2 separate regions of the Homo sapiens genome follow, and region 2 is linked to region 1. The links come from fine-mapping of genetic effects on gene expression. A gene starts in region 1. The other region holds a variant in brackets. All regions are shown on one strand. Distances are from middle to middle. Region 1 holds the start of SLC44A2 (solute carrier family 44 member 2 (CTL2 blood group)). Region 2 has its middle 10 kb from the start of AP1M2.

Region 1 (9,331 bases):
ACTCCATCTCCAAAAAACAAACAAACAAACAAAAAACGCAAATTAATTTTTAAAATATGTACCCTTAGAAAATTCTAAGCTCGTTTTTATTTTCAGTGTTCACTCTACATACATGTATTATATATTGTGGCTATTCATTCAACAAATACTTATTAAATGTTTGTTTTATGCCAGGGGCTATGCTGTATACTGGGGACGCAGCCGGAATGAAAGACACACAAATCCCTGTCCTTATGCAGGCAATAGGCAAGAGGGCAGATAATTAACAACCAATAAGCAAATGTCTAACATGTCAGATGGTGATAAGAAGCAAAATGTATCACATCTGTAATCCCAGGGTTTTGGGAGGCCGAGGTGGGAGGAAGGCTTGAGCCCATTGAGCACAGGAGTTTGAGACCAGCCTTGGGCAACATAGCGAGACACTGGTCTACAAAAAATTTTAAAATTAGGCAGGCATGGTGGTGTGTGCCTATAGTCACAGCTACTTGGGAGGCTGAGGCGAGAAGATCATTTGAGCCTAGGAGGTTTAGGCTGCAGTGAGCTATGATTGCTCCACTGCATTCCAGGCTGAGTGACAAAGCAAGACTCTATTTGATAATAACAACAAAGAGAAAGTCATAGGGGTCAGGTATAGTGGCTCATGCCTATAATCCCAGCACTTTGGGAGGCCAAGGTGGGCAGATCACTTGAGGTCAGGAGTTCGAGACCAGTAGTAGAGACATGGTAAAAGCCAGTCTCTGCTACTAAAAATACAAAAATCAGCCAGGCACGTTGGTGTGTGCCTGTAGTCCCAGCTACTTGGGAGCCTGAGGCAGGAGAACTACTTGAACCCGGGAGGTGGAGGTTGCAGTGAGCCTAGATGGCACCACTGCACTCCAGCCTGGGCGACAGAGCGAGACTCTGCCTCAAAAAAGAAAAAAAAAATGAAAGAAAGAAAAGAAAAGGTCATAGGACAGAGAGGAAAGGGATGGTTGGGTGTTTTTTTTTTTTTTTTTTTGGTTTTTGTGGGTTTTCTTTTAGATGGAGTCTTGCTCTGTCACCCAGGCTGGAGTACAGTGCCAGGATCTTGGCTCATTGCAGCCTCGACCTCTTGGTCTCAGGTGATCCTCCCACCTCCACCTCCCAAGTTGCTGGGACTACAGGTATGTGTCACCACACCTGGCTAATTTTTAATTTAATTTATTTATTTTTGAGACGGAGTTTCACTCTTGTTGCCCAGACTGGAGTGCAATGGCATGATCTCAGCTTGCTGCAACCTCCGCTTCCCAGGTTCAAGCGATTCTCGTGCCTCAGCCTCCCAAGTAGCTGGGACTACAGGCATGCACCACCTCGCCCCGGCTAATTTTTGTAGTAATAGAAACAGGGTTTCTCCATGTTGGTCAGGCTGGTCTGGAACTCCCGACCTCAGGTGATCTGCCCACCTTGGCCTCCCAAAGTGCTGGGATTATAGGCGTGAGCCACTGCGCCTGGCCTCACCTGGCTAATTTTTGTACTTTTAGTAGAGATGGGGTTTCACAGTGTTGCCCAGGCTGGTCTCGAACTACTGGCCTCCAGTGATCTGCCTGTCTCAGCCTCCCCAAGTGCTAAGATGACAGGCTTGAGCCACCACGCCTTGCCAAGGTGATATTTCAGGCAAGGCCTGAAGGCAACGGAGCTGTATGGATGTCTGAGAGAAGAGCATTCTAAGCAGAGGGACCGAGCAGCTAGTGCAAAGGCCCTGAGGTCAGACCATGCCTGCTGAGCGTGGGACGTACCCAGGAGGCCAGTGAGGCTGAACAGAGTAAGCCATGGAGAGAGAGAGGGAGGAGGTGAGGGCAGGGAGGTGACAGGGCAGGTCATGCAAGGCTTTGTGGGCTGTGGCGAAGAGCTGGGCTTTTTCCTCGGAATGAGGTGGGAACCATGGAGGTTTCTGAGCAGAGCAGGGATGTGTCCTGACTTAGGTGTGCACAGATGTCTCTGGCCGCTATAGTGAGGATAGAAAGTGTCTGTGTTGGTCCAGGCAGGAGATGACAGGGCTGTGTGAAAGGGTGGGTGCTTGAGGAGCAGGTGAGAAGAGGTTGGATTCTGGATAGCTCTGAAGGCAAAACTGATCTCAAGCAGAGAGGCAGCCCAGGTTCCTGGCCAGAGCACGTGGGAGGATGGAGCGGAGTCATGGGATAATCAGAAGCTTGGACAGGCCAGGCACGGTGGCTCACACCTATAATTACAGCACTTTGGGAGGCTGAGGTGGGAGGATCCCTGAGGCCAGGAGTTCCAGACCAGCCTGGGCAACATTGCGAGACCCTGTCTCTACTAAAAATACAAAAAATTACCTGAGTGTGGTGGCGCGTGCCTGTGATCCCAGCTACTCAGGAGGCTGAGGTGGGAGGATCGCCTGAGCCCAGGAGGTCAAAGCTACAGTGAGCTGTGATTATGCCACTGCATTCCAGCCTGGGCGACAGAGTGAGACCCTGTCTCAAAAACAAAAAAGCTTAGATGCCGCCGCACTGAGTATGAGATGCTCACGTGTGTTGGGGGGAGACAGATGTCACATAGGTGTGCAGCTCAGAGACAAGGGTTTCCAGAGGGCTTAACTTTTGGGACTCCTCAGTGTGGAGCTGGTGGGTGGGGCCTGAATAAATTGTCCCCAGGGCACCCTGTGTAGTTGGGAAGAGAAGAGGCCTGTGGCTCGCTCTCTTTGTCCACTGCTTGGAATGGGTAGGGTGGGACCAGCCAGCCTTTGGGCTGGCAGAGACTTCGAGAACCACAGGGCTTCTTTAGGAGTCTGGGTCACCCCAGGGCATGACCTGGCGCCTCAGGCCTTGCCTGTGGTCCAGGTGTTTAGACAGGGCCCCTCTGCTGGTGGCTACTAGGAGGAGAGGGCGCCTTTTTAAGGATAAGTTGAGTTAGTGACCAGAGCCCTGCCTGCGAGTCCTAGAGTCTAAGGCAGCAGCTACAATTATTGGACACCAAATGTATATGATCACGCTGACTGTATAACCTCATGCTGTCTGTGTACACCCAGCACTAAATGTATATTCCTGCTGAGGATACCTCCACACCACCTGTATAATGCCATGTTAACCAAATAATTGGCTGCACTATAAATATCTATAAATATTCAAGTAGAGGCAGGTTGTGGCGTGGTGACTCGTGCCTGCAATCCCAGCACTTTGGGAGGTTGAGGTGGGAGGATTGCTTAAGGCCAGGAGTTTGAGCCCAGCCTGGGTAACACAGTGAGATCCTGTCTCTATTTTTATTGTATTGTATTTTTTTTTTTTTTTGAGGCGGAGTCTCGCTCTGTCGCCCAGGCTGGAGTACAGTGGCATAATCTCGGCTCACTGCAACCTCTACCTCCCAGGTTCAAACGATTCTCCTACTTCAGCCTCCCCAGTAGCTGGGATTACAGGTGCCCACCACCACACCTGGCTAATTTTTGTATTTTTAGTACAGACAGGGTTTTGCCTTGTTGGCCAGGCTGGTCTTGAACTCCTGACCTCAGTGATCTGCCCGCCTCGGCCTCCCACAGTGCTGGGATTACAGGCATGAACCACCACACCCGGCTAATTTTTGATTTATTGATTGATTGATTTTTTGAGACACTCGCTCTGTCACCCAGGCTGGAGTGCAGTGGCACGATCTCGGCTCATTGCAACCTCCGCCTCTCGGGTTGAAGTGATTCTCCTGCCTCAGCCTCCCAAGTAGCTGGGACTACAGGTGCACACCACAACATCCAGCTAATTTTTGTATTTTTAGTACAGACGGGGTTTCACCAAGTTGGCCAGGATGGTCTCGATCTCTTGACCTCATGATCCGCCCACCTCGGCCTCCCAAAGTGCTGGGATTATAGGTGTTAGCCACCACACCCAGCCTATTTTCTTTTTTCTTTTTCTTTTTGGAGACAGAGTCTCACTCTGTCCCCCAGGTTGGAGTGCAGTGAGGCAATCTTGGCTCACTGCAACCTCCACCTCCTGGGTTTAAGCGATTCTCCTGCCTCAGCTTCCCAAGTAGCTGGGATTACAGGCATGTGCCACCACACTGGCTAATGTTTGTATTTTTAGTAGAGAAGGGGTTTCACCATGTTGGCCAGGCTGGCTTAGAAATCCTGATCGACCTGCCTCAGCCTCCCAGAGTGCTGGGATTACAGGCATGAGCCACTGCACCTGGCCTATGCCTGCTCTTTGAGGTCAGTTTTGGTTTCATACTTTAGCCTCATTTTGCAGTTGAGGAAACTGAGGCTTAAGGAAGATAAGCCCTTTGTTAAGTATCCTCTAGTTCAGAGGGTGCAGAAGGAGCATTTGAATTCAGGGCGACCCAGGAGGATGTGGGCTCCACAAGGGTGGAGATTGGGTCTCTCTGGTTCCTCACTGTATGCGGTGCCCCGCCCAAGGCCTGCACCCACTAAGGGCTGAATAAATACTTGTTCTAAGACCAGGCCCAGTAGTGCACGCAGGTAATCCCAGCACTTTGGGGGGCCACGGTGGGAGGAGCCCACGAGTCCAGGAGTTAAAGATGAGCCTGGGCAACATAGCAACATCCCATCTCTACAAAAAAAATTAAAAATTAGCCGAGTGCAGTAGAGCACCTGTAGTCCCAGCTACTCAGGAGGCTTAGTCAGGAGGATGGCTTGAGGCAGGGAGGTCGAGACTGCGATGAGCTGTGATTGCACCACTGCACTCCAGCCTGGGCAACAGAGGGAGATCCTGTCTCAAAAAAAAAAAGCAGCAGACAGAAAGAAAACTAATTTCCTGCACAGCTTGGAGAAGTTTTCAGCACCAACATTCCACAGTTGGTTGTCTGGGTTTGGGCAGTAGGCCGTTTTCCCTCCCAGTGCCTCAGTTTCCACACCTGCAAAACGAAGCCACGGAAACGCCCTTTCAGGGTGGCCAGGGGTTCTAGGCGGCATCGCCCGGTGGCAGGGTGTTCCCAGGGTGAAGCCGCAGGGTTCCCGGGTGGGGGCGGGGAAGGCTAAATGCGGCCGGCCGGTGAGTGGCGGGAGCAGCTGCAGCCCCGCCCGCGCCCTCCCGGGTCCCTTAGTCTGGGCAGCTGCCCAGCTCGGGCCGGTCTGACCGGTTTGGGCCGCCCCGCCTGGCGCTGTGCTGGGAGGAGCCGCCGCCAGTCGCGCGGTCAGTGCCTCCCTCCAGACTCGGGAGGGTCGAGGGGGCGCGGGAGAGAGCGCGGGCGGCCGCCGGGGCTGGTCGCCTGCAGGGATGGGGGACGAGCGGCCCCACTACTACGGGAAACACGGTAGGCAGCGACCCCCGCCCGTAGCCCCGGGCCGACCCCTCGGTCCCTCGGAGGGGGCCTTGAGAGAACATGGGGCGCAGGGAAGGGGGCTGGAGGGGGAGCGCAATTGCAAATCTGCGCCTGGAGCCTCCCCACCATCAGCCAGGCCCCTTCACCCCACTTATCCCCCGCAGCCTCGCAGACGACCCTCCTTACTCTCCCCTACCCGAAGGACCTGCCCCTGTACCCCTCTGCCTGGCACTGCTGCCGGCGCCTCCTTCCCCCTATCCCACCTCAGATCTTCCCCATCTCCACCTGGTTCCGTGGTGGTCACCATTTCAGCCCTCTTCCCAGTGGGTGGCCGCCAGTTAATAAGTTTGTTCACAGTTAGTGATCCCTCCTTCCTCCCCTGTCCTGGCCTGCCAGAACTGGGGGCTTGGGTGTGGTCACCTGGAGGTGGGTGAGGCAGAAAATTCCACAGGTCTCTGAATTTTATTCTTGCCAAGGCAAAGACACCCCTAGGGGCTTTTGGGAGGGGGCTCTCCCAGCCCTGTCTTGGTTCAGGTCTCCAATCCCATCCATCTTAATCTTCTTGACTTTCAGGAACGCCACAGAAGTATGATCCCACTTTCAAAGGACCCATTTACAATAGGTAAGAGCTCTGGGTTTTGGGGGGTTCTCCCCGCTAATACTACCCCAATCCCTGTCTCTTCACACCCCCTCCCATCTGTTCTCCAACAAACTGGTGACAAATATTTGAAACTTTTTTTTTTTTTTGAGATGGAGTCTTGCTCTGTCACCAGGCTGGAGTGCCGTGGCGCGATCTCAATCTCGGCTCACTGCAACCTTCGCCTCCCGGGTTCGAGCAATTCTCCCACCTCAGTCTCCCAAGTAGCTGGGATTACAGGCTTGCACCACCACACCTGGCTAATTTTTTTTTTTTTTTGTACTTTTAGCAGAGATGTTTCGCTGTGTTGCCCATGCTGGTCTCGACCTCGTGAGCTCAAAGCGATCCACCTGCCTTGGCCTCCCAAAGTGCTGGGATTACAGGTGTGAGTTACCACACCTGGCCTGGACTTAATTTTTACCATGTTTATATTTATTTATTTATTTATTTATTTTTGAGATGGAGTCTCACTCTGTCACCCAGGCTGGAGTGGTGCAATCTCAGCTCACTGCAACCTTCCCCTCCTGGTTCAAGCACGTCTTCTGTCTCAGCCTCTCCAGTAGCTGTGACTACTCAGAGGCTACTCAGAAGGCTGAGGCAGGAGAATTGCTTGAATCTGGGAGGTGGAGGTTGCAGTAAGCTGAGATTGCGCCACTGCACTCCAGCCTGGAGGACAAGAGCGAGACTCTGTCTCAAAAAAAAATAACAAAAAAATAAAATACAGCCAGGCACGGTGGCTCACACCTATAATCCCAGCACTTTGGGAGGCCAAGGCAGGTGGATCACTTGAGGTTAGGAGTTCGAGACCAGCCTGGCTAACATGGTGAAACCCTGTCTCTACTAAAAATACAAGAATTAGCTGGGCATGGTGGCGGGCACCTATAATCCCAGCTACTTGGGAGACTGAGGCAGGAGAATCGCTTGAACCTGGGAGGTAGAGGTTGCAGTAAGCTGAGATCGTTCCACTGCACTCCAGCCTGGGCGACAGAGTGAGATTCCCTCTCAAAAAAAAAAAAAAAGTCTAGCTTGGGCAACATAGCGAGACCTTGTCTCTACAGAATGTATATAAATTAAAAAAAAAATGTGTGGTGGTGTGCACCTGTAGTCTCAACTACTTGGGAAGCTGAGGCAGGAGGATCACTTGAGCCCAGGAGTTCGAGGCTGTAGTGAGCTATGATCATGCCACTGTACTCCAGCCTGGATGACGGAGTGAGACTCTGTTGCACAAAATTAAAAAATGAAATGAAATAAAAATTAAAATGCATGTGCCCTTTGGTACGGCATTCAAACGACTCAGGAAAATTTGTCCAAATAACACATGGATGAGGGTGTTTGCAGAGGGCAGATGGGCCCATGGTGCACACAGCACCAAGCCTCCTCCAAACACTGCCCCTCTGCTCCCCAGGGGCTGCACGGATATCATATGCTGTGTGTTCCTGCTCCTGGCCATTGTGGGCTACGTGGCTGTAGGCATCATAGGTGAGTAGAGAATGAGCAGGACTTGGAGTTGCAGGGTAGGCGGAGGCAGCCATGGCCTCTGGAGTGGGAACAGGGCTGGATCTGAGGAGTGGCAGTGTCTCAGTATCCCTGGATCTTTCCACAGCCTGGACTCATGGAGACCCTCGAAAGGTGATCTACCCCACTGACAGCCGGGGCGAGTTCTGCGGGCAGAAGGGCACAAAAAACGAGTGAGTTGACTCCTTGCGGCCTGGTGGGGCTGGGGAAGAGGGGGCAGAAGATTCTAGGCATTCCCCATCTCTCTAAGTCCAGTTAACAAGTGCTTATAGGCTGGGCGCGGTGACTCACGCCCGAAATTCCAACACTTTGGGAGGCCGAGGCAGGAATATTGCTTTAGGCTAGGAGTTCGAGACCAGCCTGGCCAACATGGCAAAACCCCGTCTCCACTAAAAATACACAAATTAGCCAGGCATGGTGGCACATGCCTGTAATCCCAGCTACTCAGGAGGCTGAGGCAGGAGAATCACTTGAACCACAGGAGGCAGAAGTTGCAATGAGCCGAGATCGTGCCACTGCACTTTAGCCTGGGGCACAGAGTGAGACTCTGTCTCAAAACAAACAAGCAAAAATTAAGTGGACGTGGTGGGGCACACCTCTAGTCCCAGCTACCCAGCAGGCTGAGGTGGGAGGATAGCTTGAGCTGGGAGGCCAAGGCTGCAGTAAGGTATGATTGTACCATTGCACTCCAGCCTGGACGACAGAGCGAGACCTGGTCTCAACAAAACAACAAGAAAAGAAAACAAGTACTGATAAACGTCCCACTACCCTCAGCCACTAGTCTAGTCCTTGGGGACACACAGCTCTAAATGAGATAGTAAGCATCCTGTTCTCTGGCAGCACACATTTTAAGGGCGGGAGAGACTGAGAGGGGACAGTCCTGGATTACGCGTCAGGTGGTGATGAACAGGTGAGACAACAGAGCAAGCATAGCCTGAGTGGCGTCACTTCCTGGCTCTGTGACCTAGGGCAGGTGTCTCAATCTCTCTGAACCTCGTTTTCCTCATCTCTAAAATGAGGATCATAACAGTCCCACCCTCATGGGGCTATTTTGATGGTTAGATGTGCCAATACATGTACAGAGCTTAGAATGCCACCTGGCATCGCTGGGCGTGGTGGCTCACACCTGTAATCCCAGCACACTTTGGGAGGCTGAGGTGGGAGGATCAAGACCAGCCTAGTCAACATGGTGAAACCCCGTCTCTACTAAAAATACAAAAAAATTAGCTGGGCATTGTGGCATGTTCCTGTAATCCCGGTTACTCAGGAGGCTGAGGCAGGAGAATTGCTTGAACCTGGGAGGCAGAGGTTGCAATGAGCCGAGATCGTGCCACTGCACTCCAGCCTAGGCAACAGAGCAAGACTCCATCTCAAAAAAAAAAAAAAGAATGGCACCTGGCATAGAGTTGCTGATGCTGCAGTTTTTAAACTATTATTATTATTATTATTACTATTATTATTTTGAAACGGAATTTTGCTCTTGTTACCCAGGCTAGAGTGCAGTGGCACAATCTCAGCCCACTGCAACCTCCGTCTCCCGGGTTCAAGCGGTTCTCCTGCCTCAGCCTCCCGAGTTGCTGGGATTACAGGCATATGCCACCATGCCCAGCTAATTTTTGTATTTTTAGTAGAGACGGGGTTTCATCATATTGGTCAGGCTGGTCTCGAACTCCTGACCTCAGGTTATCTGCCTGCCTTGGCTTCCCAAACTGCTGGTATTACGGGTGTGAGCCACCACACCCGGCCTATTATTATTATTACTATTATTATTATTTTGACACAGTGTCTCACTCTGTCAGCCAGTGGCAGGATCATAGCTCGCTACAGCCTGGAACTCCTGGGCTTAAGCGATCTTCCCACCTGGGCCTTCCAAAGTGCTGGCACAAGACAGGCCTGAGCCACCCTGCCTGGCCCTATATAAGATATCTTTTTTTTTTTTTGAGA
Region 2 (9,331 bases), 28 kb before region 1:
GAGCCACTGCACCCGGACTTTTTTGTTTTTTGAGATGGAATTTCACTCTTGTTGCCCAGGCTGGAGGGCAATGGTGCAACCTTGGCTCACCATACCCTCCGCCTCCCAGGTTCAAGTGATTCTCCTGCCTCAGCCTCCCAAGTAGCTGGGATTACAGGCATGCACCACCATGCCTGGCTAATTTTGTATTTTTAGTACAGACAAGGTTTCTCCATGTTGGTCAGGCTGGTCTCAAACTCCCGACCTCAGGTGATCCACCCACCTCAGCCTCCCAAAGTGCTGGGATTACAGGGGTGAGCCATCGCACCTGGCCCTGATTATTATTATTATTATTATTATTATTTTTGAGGCAGGGTCTCTGTCACCCAGGCTGGAGTGCAGTGGTGTGATCTCAGCTCACTGCAACCTCCACCTCCCCAGGTTCAAGCAATCAAGCAATTCTCCCACCCCAGCCTCCTGCACAGCTGGGACCACAGGTGCGTGACCACCACATCCAGCTAATTTTTATACTTTTTGGTACAGACAGGTTTCACAATGTCGCCCAGGCTGGTCTCCAACTTGTGGACTTAAGTGGTCCACCCGCCTCGGCCTCCCACAGTGCTGGGATTATAGGCGTGAGCCATCTCGCCCAGCCTAAAGCCCAAGACTTTATGTTGCTTCTGCCCAAAGGAGGGGGGTGGTCCTTCATGCTCCCAGCAACTGCCTGCTGAGAAGGTCACCTAGGGGGATGCAGTCACTGCTAGGCCCTCACCCCAGCCTAGACATTGCTGAACCTCAAAATAACTCGTCTCCTGGCAGCCGGGCGTGGTGGCTCACGCCTGTAATCCTAGCACTTCGGGAGGCTGAGGTGGGTGGATCACCTGAGGTCAGGAGTTTGAGACCAGCCTGGCCAAAATGGTGAAACCCTGTCTGGACTAAAAATACAGAATTAGCCGGGGGTGGTAGCACATGCCTGTAATCCCACCTACTCAGGAGACTGAGGCAGGAGAATCACTTGAAACTGGGAGGCAGAGGTTGCAGTGAGCCAAGATTGCGCCATTGCACTCCAGCCTGGGGCAATAGAGTGAGACTCTGTCTCAAAAACAACAACAACAACAAAATGAAGAACTCATCTCCTGGGGCCCTGAGATGTTTTCAGGCAGTAAGCAGAACCCGAAAGCCTGGGCCCAGTGCCCTGGAATCTGAAACTCCAGGCTTGTTTGGCATGAAAAATTCATGAGCCCAAAAGCTTACTTGGGGTCAGAGAACAGAGCAGCTCTGTGTGCTGGCTCTGCCTGCCCCGCCTGCCCCACCTCAGTGGCGGCCTCCCCCATCCCCCTGAGGCTGTGGCCTTGTCCTAGTTCCTTCTGGATGCCTGGAGCCTCCTCCAGCCTCTCCCAGGGACCACGCCTCTAGGCCCTGTCCACAATCCCTTCTCCACACCACTAAAGAGATCTCTCTGAAACTCACAATTATTTTTTGACTCTCACTCTCACATCCTCTATGGCCCCCCATTGCCCTCCAACCACCCCCACCTGGCACAGTCAGACACCTGCTGACCTCTGCCACAGGACACCACCTGAACCTGCTGTCCCAGACACCCTAACTGCCCGAATTTCAGTTCCTCTCCTGCTGTCTCAAGCCATCCTCCCACCTCAGCCTCCCAAGTAGCTGAGACTATAGACACGTGCCACCACAGCTGGCCACCTTAGCCATTTTGAAGTGCACAGTTCGGTGGCATTAAGCACATTAATGGCCATGCAACCGTCACCACCATCCATCTCCAGAACTTTCTCATCTTCCCAAAGGAAAACTTCTCCCTATGAAACACTCCTTCTCCCTCTCCCAACCCCTGGCACCCACTCTTCTTCTTCTTCTTCTTCTCCTTTTCCTTCTCCTCCTCCTCCTTCTTCTTCTTCTTTTCTTTTTTTTATTTATTTTGAGATGGAGTCTCACCGTCACCGAGGCTTGAGTGCAGTGGCACAATCTCGGCTCACTGCAGCCTCCATCTCCTAGGTTCAAGCAGTTCTCCTGCCTCAGCCTCCTGAGTAGCTGGGATTACAGGCGCCCCCCACCACGCCCAGCTAATTTTATTTTTTTATATTTTATTTATTCATTTACTTTTATTATTTTATTATTATTTTTTTTTGAGACAGAGTCTCGCTCTGTTGCCCAGGCTGGAGTGCAGTGGCACGATCTCAGCTCCCTGCAAGCTCTGCCTCCCGGGTTCATGCCATTCTCCTGCCTCAGCCTCCCGAGTAGCTGGGACTACAGGTGCCTGCCACCACACCCGGCTAATTTTTGTATTTTTAGTAGAGGCAGGGTTTCGCCATATTGGCCAGGCTGGTCTCTTGGCCAAGCTGGTCTGGAACTCCTGACCTGGAGATGTGCCTGCCTCAGCCTCCCAAAGTGCTGGGATTATAGGCGTGAGCCGCCGCGCCCAGCTTTTTTTTCTTTTTTTTTTGAGACGGATTCTCACTTTGTCGCCCAGGGGCTGGAGTGCAGTGGCGCAATCTCAGCTAATTGCAACCTCCTCCTTCTCCTAGTTCAAGTGATTCTCCTGCCTCAGCCTCCCAAGTAGCTGGGATTACAGGCATCTGCCACCACGCTGGGCTAATTTTTGTATTTTTGGTAGAGACTGGGTTTCGCCATGTTGACTAGGCTGGTCTCAAACTCCTGACCTCAAGTGATCCACCCATCTCAGCCTCCCAATGTGCTGGGATTACAAGTGTAAGCCACCATGCCCAGCTACTCAGGAGTCTGAGGTGGGAGGATCACTGGAGCCCAGAAGATTGAGGCTGCAGTGAGCTATGGTTGCACCACTGCACTCCAGCCTCGGTGACAAAGCAAGAACCTATCTTAAGAAAATACTGTGCTGAGCCAGTTCCTGAGAAAACAAAATAGAAAACAAAACTAAAGAAAAGGCAAAAGTTCCTCCCAGCAGAGATGTGAGAGAAAAAGAAAAAAAAAGTCCCCTGTGACACCCCCATACCCCAATCTTCGTCCCTCTCATAACCACTGGCTGATTCAGATCTTTTTCAGCTGGGTTACATGCAGGGGGGTGTGTGTGTGTGTTTGTGTGTGTGTGTGTGTGTGTGTGTGTGTGTGCGCGTGTTGCCCTCTTTCTCTCTCTTTCTCCCATACCATATAAGACTATACAACTTGTGGATGGGCACAGTGGCTCTCACCTGTAATCCCAGAACTTTGGGAGGCAGAGGCGGGTGGGGCACTTGAGGCCAAGAGTTCAAGAGCAGCCTGGGCAACATGGCAAAAAATCTGTCTCTACTAAAAATATAAAAACTGGCCAGGTGTGGTGGCTCACGCCTGTAATCCCTGCACTTTGGAGGCTAAGGCAGGTGAATCACCTGAGGTCAGGAGTTTGAGACAAGCCTGGCCAACATGATAAAATCCTGTCTCTACTAAAAATACAAAAAATTAGCCAGGTATGCTGGCGGACACCTGTAATCCCAGCTACTCGGGAGGCTGAGGCAGGAGAATTGCTTGAACCCAGGAGGCAGAGGTTGCAGTGAGCCGAGATCATGCCACTGCACTCGAGCCTGGGTGACAGAACAAGAATCTGTCTCAAAAACAAAACAAAACAAAACAAACAAGCAACAACAACTATATATATATATATATATATGTATATAGACTAAGCTGGGCATGGTGGTGCGTACCTGAAATCCCAGCTACTCCAGAGGCTGAGGCACACAAATCACTTGAACCCAAGAGAAGGAGGTTTCAGTGAGCTGAGCTCGCACCACTGCACTCCAGCCTGGGCGACAGAGAGAGACTCTGTCTTAAATAAAAAAAAAAAAATACAACTTGCTATTATCACTCAACAATATGACCTGGACGCTACTCCGGAAAGCATGTGGTTGAAGGGGAAGGAA[G/T]TGTGTCTTGGGTGTAAAGTCGGACTCCCTGGGTTCAGATCCTTGCAGAGCCACGGGCTCATTATGTTACTGTGGGTAAATTACTTCACCTCTCTGGGTCACTTTCCCCAATTGGAAAATGATTATAATGATTTAATACAGAGTGCTTGGGCCAGACGCGGTGTCTCACGCCTGTAATCCCAGCACTTTGGGAGGCCGAGGCGGTGGATCATGAGGTCAGGAGATTGACACCATCATGGCTAAGACAGTGAAACCCGTTCTTCACTAAAAATACAAAAAACTAGCTGAGCGTGGTGGTGGGTGCTGTAATCCCAGCTACTCAGAAGGCTGAGGCAGGAGAATTGCTTGAACCCGGGAGGCAGATGGTGCAGTGAGCTGAGATCACGCCACTGCACTCCAGCTTGGCGACAGAGTGAGACTCCATCTCAAAAACTAAAACAAACAACAACAACTATATACACACACACACACACACATACACACACAGAGAGCACTTTACTGGGTGAGCCAAGATCGCGCCACTGCCCTCCAGCAGCCTTGGTTCAAAAAAAAAAGGTGCTTGGCCAGCATGGTGGCTCATGCTTGTAATCCCAGCACTTCAAGAGGCCAAGATGGGCAGATCGATTGAGGCTAATGAGACCTGGTCTCTATTTCAAAAAAAAGAAAAAGAGTTAAAAAAATATATAAAGCATTTAATACCTTGTCTGACACTGACTAAGCTTTCTATAAACATTCACTCTTTCTTTCCTTTTTTTTTTTTTTGAGACCGAGTCTCGTTCTGTCACCCAGGCTGGTGTGCAATGGTGCACTCTTGGATCACTGCAACCTCTGACTCCCAGGTTCAAGTGATTCTCCTGCTTCAGCCTCCCAAGTAGCTGGGATTACATGCATGTGCCACCACACTCGGCTAATTTTGTATTTTTAGTAAAGACGGGATTTCTCCATGTTGGTCGGGCTGGTCTCGAACTCCCGACCTCAGGTGATCCGCCCGCCTCGGCCTCCCAAAGTGCTGGGATTACAGGTGAGAGCCACTGCGTCTGGCCTTAGAGACAGATTTTCATCGTGTTGTCCAGGCTAATCTTGAACTCCTGTCCTCAAGTGACCCTCCTGCCTCCCAGAGTGCTGGGATCACAGATGTGAGCCACCACTCCTGGCTGTAAACAGTCACTCTTATTATAATCTGCAGGACCACCACCTTTTTTCTTAAACTATTTTAAAAATTCTCATTTTGAAATGTAACTTTTTTATTTATTATGTATACAAACACACATATATATTTGCATCATAAATGTTATTCCCAATATGGGACAGATTCCTTTCAACCCCCAGGTGAATCACATGGTACCCTGGAAAGACCTAGGAAGCCCTCCCTCCCACCATCTCCAGGGAGGTAGTGAGAACGGCAGGTGCTGGGGACTGGGAAGGCTTTGGAGTTTCCCAGCCTACCTCTTCTCCCTTTCTCAACAAAGGATACCTGTTCCCTATTATTCCCCTTATCCACTCTTCCCTTTTTTAAAAAAAACCCACAAAACCATCATTAGTAAAAAAACAAACAAAACCCCTTCAAGTATTGGGAGTTAGGGGTCCTGGGCTGGGACTTGGAGTTACAGGTCACCAAGGAAGAGGGAAGGGAAGAGAAGGAGGGGCTGTCACTTACTACTGCTGGCTTTCTTCCTTGCTGCATGCTATGGCAACTGTGTGTCGACCTCCTTTGCTGGCAACTGCACGTATGGGACCACTGAGCCCGGAATGAAACAGTCCTTTTTAAAAAACTTTTTTTGAGACAGAGTCTCGCTCTGTCACCCAGGCTGGAGTGCAGTGGCATGATTTCAGCTCACTGCAGCCTCCACCTCCCGGGTTCCAGCAACTCTCCTGCCTCAGCTTCCCGAGTAGCTGTGAATACAGGCGCCCGCCACCACATCCGGCTAAGTTTTGTATTTTAGTAGAGATGGGGTTTTGCCATGTTGGCCAGGCTGGTCTCAAACTCCTGACCTCAGGTGATCCACCTGCCTTGGCCTCCCAAAGTGCTGGGGTTACAGGTGTGAGCCACTGCACCCAGCCTAGAAGTTCTTCACTGATAAAATGTGAGGATATTTCTCAAGGTGTGTGATACTGATGTCAGCTCATTTGATGTTGAGATACTGATCCACCGAATGGAGGGTGCCACAGATGTTCAGGTCTTTCTTGAGTTCCATGACCACATTCATGCCCACAAGGGACTTGAAAAAAGGAATAGAAGAGCATGATGCTGGCGACCTGACCAGGAAGAGCAACACATATTTTATTTTATTTATTTATTTATTTGAGATGCTGTCTCACTCTTTCACCCAGGCCGGAGTGCAGTGGTGCAATCTTGGCTCACTGCGACCTCTGCCTCCCGGGGTCAAGCAATTCTCTGCCTCAGCCTCCTGAGGAGCTGGGATTACAGGCGCCCGCCGCCACGCCCGTCTAATTTTTTTTTTTTTTTGTATTTTTAGTAGGGACCAGGTTTCACCAAGTTAGTCAAGCTGGTCTTGAACTCCTGACCTTGTGATCCACTCAACTCAGCTTCCCAAAGTGCTGGGATTACAGGCGTGAGCCACCGTGCCGGGCCAGCAACACATATTTTAAAAGGGCAGAAGTCGGTTGGGCACAGCGGCTTACACCTGTAATCCCTGCACTTTGGGAGGCTGAGGTTGGTGGATCACCTGAGATCAGGAGTTCGAGACCAGCCTGGGCAACATGGCGAAACCCCGTCTCTACTAAAATACAAAAATTGCCACTGTACTCCAGCTTGGGCAACAGAGCAAGATTCTGTCTCAGAAAAAAAAGGCAGGCAGAGTACGGGGGAGAAGGTCAAGTATTCACAAACTAAACTAAGCTATGTAACTACAATTCTGTTTCCAGTGCCCAGAAGCTGCTCCTATCATCCCAGTAGTTATTACTACCCCAAAAGTCAACCACTGATATATGTTCTGTTACTATAGGTTGATTAGCTATGCCTGTTCTTGAACTTCAGAAAAAAGTGTGTGGTTTCTTTCACACAACATTATGCTTTTTGGGGAGAGATTCATCCATATTTTTGCCTGTATCAATAGTTTATTCCTGGACCAGGCGCTGTGGCTCACACCTGTAATCTCAGCACTCTAGGAGGCTGAGGCAGAAGGATCACTTGAGACCAGCCTGGGCACCCATAGGGAGACCCTCATCTCCACAAAAATTTAAAAAATTAGCCGAGTATGTCCAGGTGCGGTGGCTCATGCCTATAATCCCAGCACTTTTGGAGGCTGAGGGGGGCGGATCACCTGAGGTCGGGAGTTCCAGACCAGCCCGACCAACATAGAGAAACCCCGTCTCTACTAAAAATACAAAATTAGCCAGGCGTGGTGGTGCATGCCTGTAATCCCGGCTACTCAGAGACTAAGGCAGGAGAATCACTTGAACTTGGGAGACGGAGGTTGCGGTGAGCTGAGATCACACCATTGCACCATTGCACTCCAGCCTGAGCAACAAGAGTGAAACTTTGTCAAAAAAAGAAAGAAAGAAAGAAATTAGCCAGGCATGATAGTGTGTGCCTGTAGTCCCAGCAACGGGAGGCTGAGGCAGGAGGATCACTTGAGCTGAGGAGGTCAGGGCTTCAGTCAGCTATGACTGCACCATCGCAATCCAGCCTGGGCAATACAGCAAGATCCTGTCCCTAAAAAAAGAAAGAAGAAAACATTCATTCCTCATCACTAAGGAGAATCCCATGGTATGGGTGAAACCCACCATGGTTTGCTTCACCAATGATCTGTTAATGGGCATTTGGGCTGCTCCTAGTTTTTTTGCCCACTACGAATAAGGATACTATAAGGCTATCATGAACATTTATATGAATGTGTCTGTGGGTTTTTCTTTTCTTCACTTATACTTTTTCTTGGGTATATACCTAGAAGTGCAATTTCTAGGGTATTAACTTTGCAAGAAACTGCCAGATCGTTTTCCAACTGGTTGTGGCATTTTACATTCTCACCAACAGTGTAGGAGAGCCCCCATATGCTTCCCATCTTCCTCAACACTTGGTTCGACCAGTCTTTTTAATTTTAGCTATTCAGGTGGGTGTGCAATGATATCTCATCGAGGTTTTGATTTACATTTCCCTGATGACTTCGTGCTTTATTCTTTTTTCTTTCTTTCTTTCTTTTTTTTTTTTTTTTTGAGACAGGGTCTCACTCTGTCACCCAGGCTGGAGTGCAGTGATGTTTTCACCCATTTTTCTTTCTTTTTTTTTTTCTTTTTGAGACAGAGTTTCGCTTTTTGCCCAGTTCTGTTGCCCAGTTTGGAGTGCAATAGCGTCATCTCAGCTCACCGCAACCTCCACCTCCTGGGTTCAAGCGATTCTCCTCCTCAGCCTCCAGAGTAGCTGGGATTACAGGCATGTGCCACCACACCAGGCTAATTTTTTGTATTTTTAGTAAAGACAGGGATTCTCCATGTTGGTCAGGCTGGTCTCGAACTCCCGACTTCAAGTGATCCGCCCGCCTCGGCCTCCCAAAGTGCTGGGATTACAGGCGTGAGCCTCCGCACCCGGCCTGTTTTCACCCATTTTTTCCACAATAACTGTCAAGGCTGCAGGGAACACCCCTTGGTTACTACATCCCATGCACACACACCTGCAGTGGTTTGTCCAGGGTCAGTGCCAGACAGGAATCGCACCAGGTGAACATGACTTGGATATACTCTTTCTGCCAGGAAACATTCTGCTTCAAAGTATTCACTCACCTGATTTTATGTTATTAAACTCTAAAATTCTTACCAATCTGATGAATGAAAATGGCATCTTTTGGTATGTTCAGTGGTACACGGTGATCAATATTTACCTATCAATTATTTATCTATCCATCTTCTATTATTATTTTTATTTTATTTTATTTTATTTTATTTTTTGAGACGGAGACGGAGTGTCGCTCTGTCGCCCAGGCTGGAGTGCAGTGACACGGTCTCGGCTCACTGCAAGCTCCGCCTCCCGGGTTCACGCCATTCTCCTGCCTCAGCCTCCCGAGTAGCTGAGATTACAGGTGCCCGCCACCACTCCCGGCTAATGTTTTGTATTTTTAGTAGAGACGGGGTTTCACCGTGTTAGCCAGGATGGTCTCGATCTCCTGACCATCTTCCCGCCTCGGCCTCCCAAAGTGCTGGGATTACAGGCGTGAGCCACTGCGCCCGGCCTATTATTATTATTAATTCTTATTATTATTTTGAGACAGGGTTGCCCAGGCAGTGGCACAATCATAGCTCACTGCAGCCTCAAACTCTTGGACTCAAGTGATCCTCCTACCTCAGGCTCCCGAGTAGCTGAATTACAAGTGTGCCTCACCAAGCCCAGCTAATTTTTTAAATTTTTTGTACAGATGAGGGTCTTCCTATGTTGCCCAGGCTGGTCTGGAACTATTTGGCCCAAGCTATCCTCCCGCCTCAGCCTCCGGAGTGGCTGGGATTAC

What was found.
Region 2: its variant is fine-mapped to the expression of SLC44A2 in blood mononuclear cells (TOPMed, PIP above 0.99). The same link has a PIP of 0.9 or more in whole blood.

The regions. Positions count from the first base shown.
Region 1 is chr19:10,620,445-10,629,775 of GRCh38, forward strand. SLC44A2 (solute carrier family 44 member 2 (CTL2 blood group)) reads left to right here and starts at 5,109. Exons shown (of 22, transcript NM_020428.4): 1 at 5,109-5,226; 2 at 5,809-5,857; 3 at 7,278-7,351; 4 at 7,476-7,560. The coding sequence starts at 5,190. RefSeq lists an enhancer at 3,567-4,148.
Region 2 is chr19:10,592,852-10,602,182 of GRCh38, forward strand. It overlaps the pseudogene LSM2P1. Among named protein-coding and RNA genes, the nearest start is that of AP1M2, 10 kb to the left of the region's middle. RefSeq lists enhancers at 1-266, 793-1,317, 2,792-2,981. The variant G/T (reference allele first, on the strand shown) is at 3,873.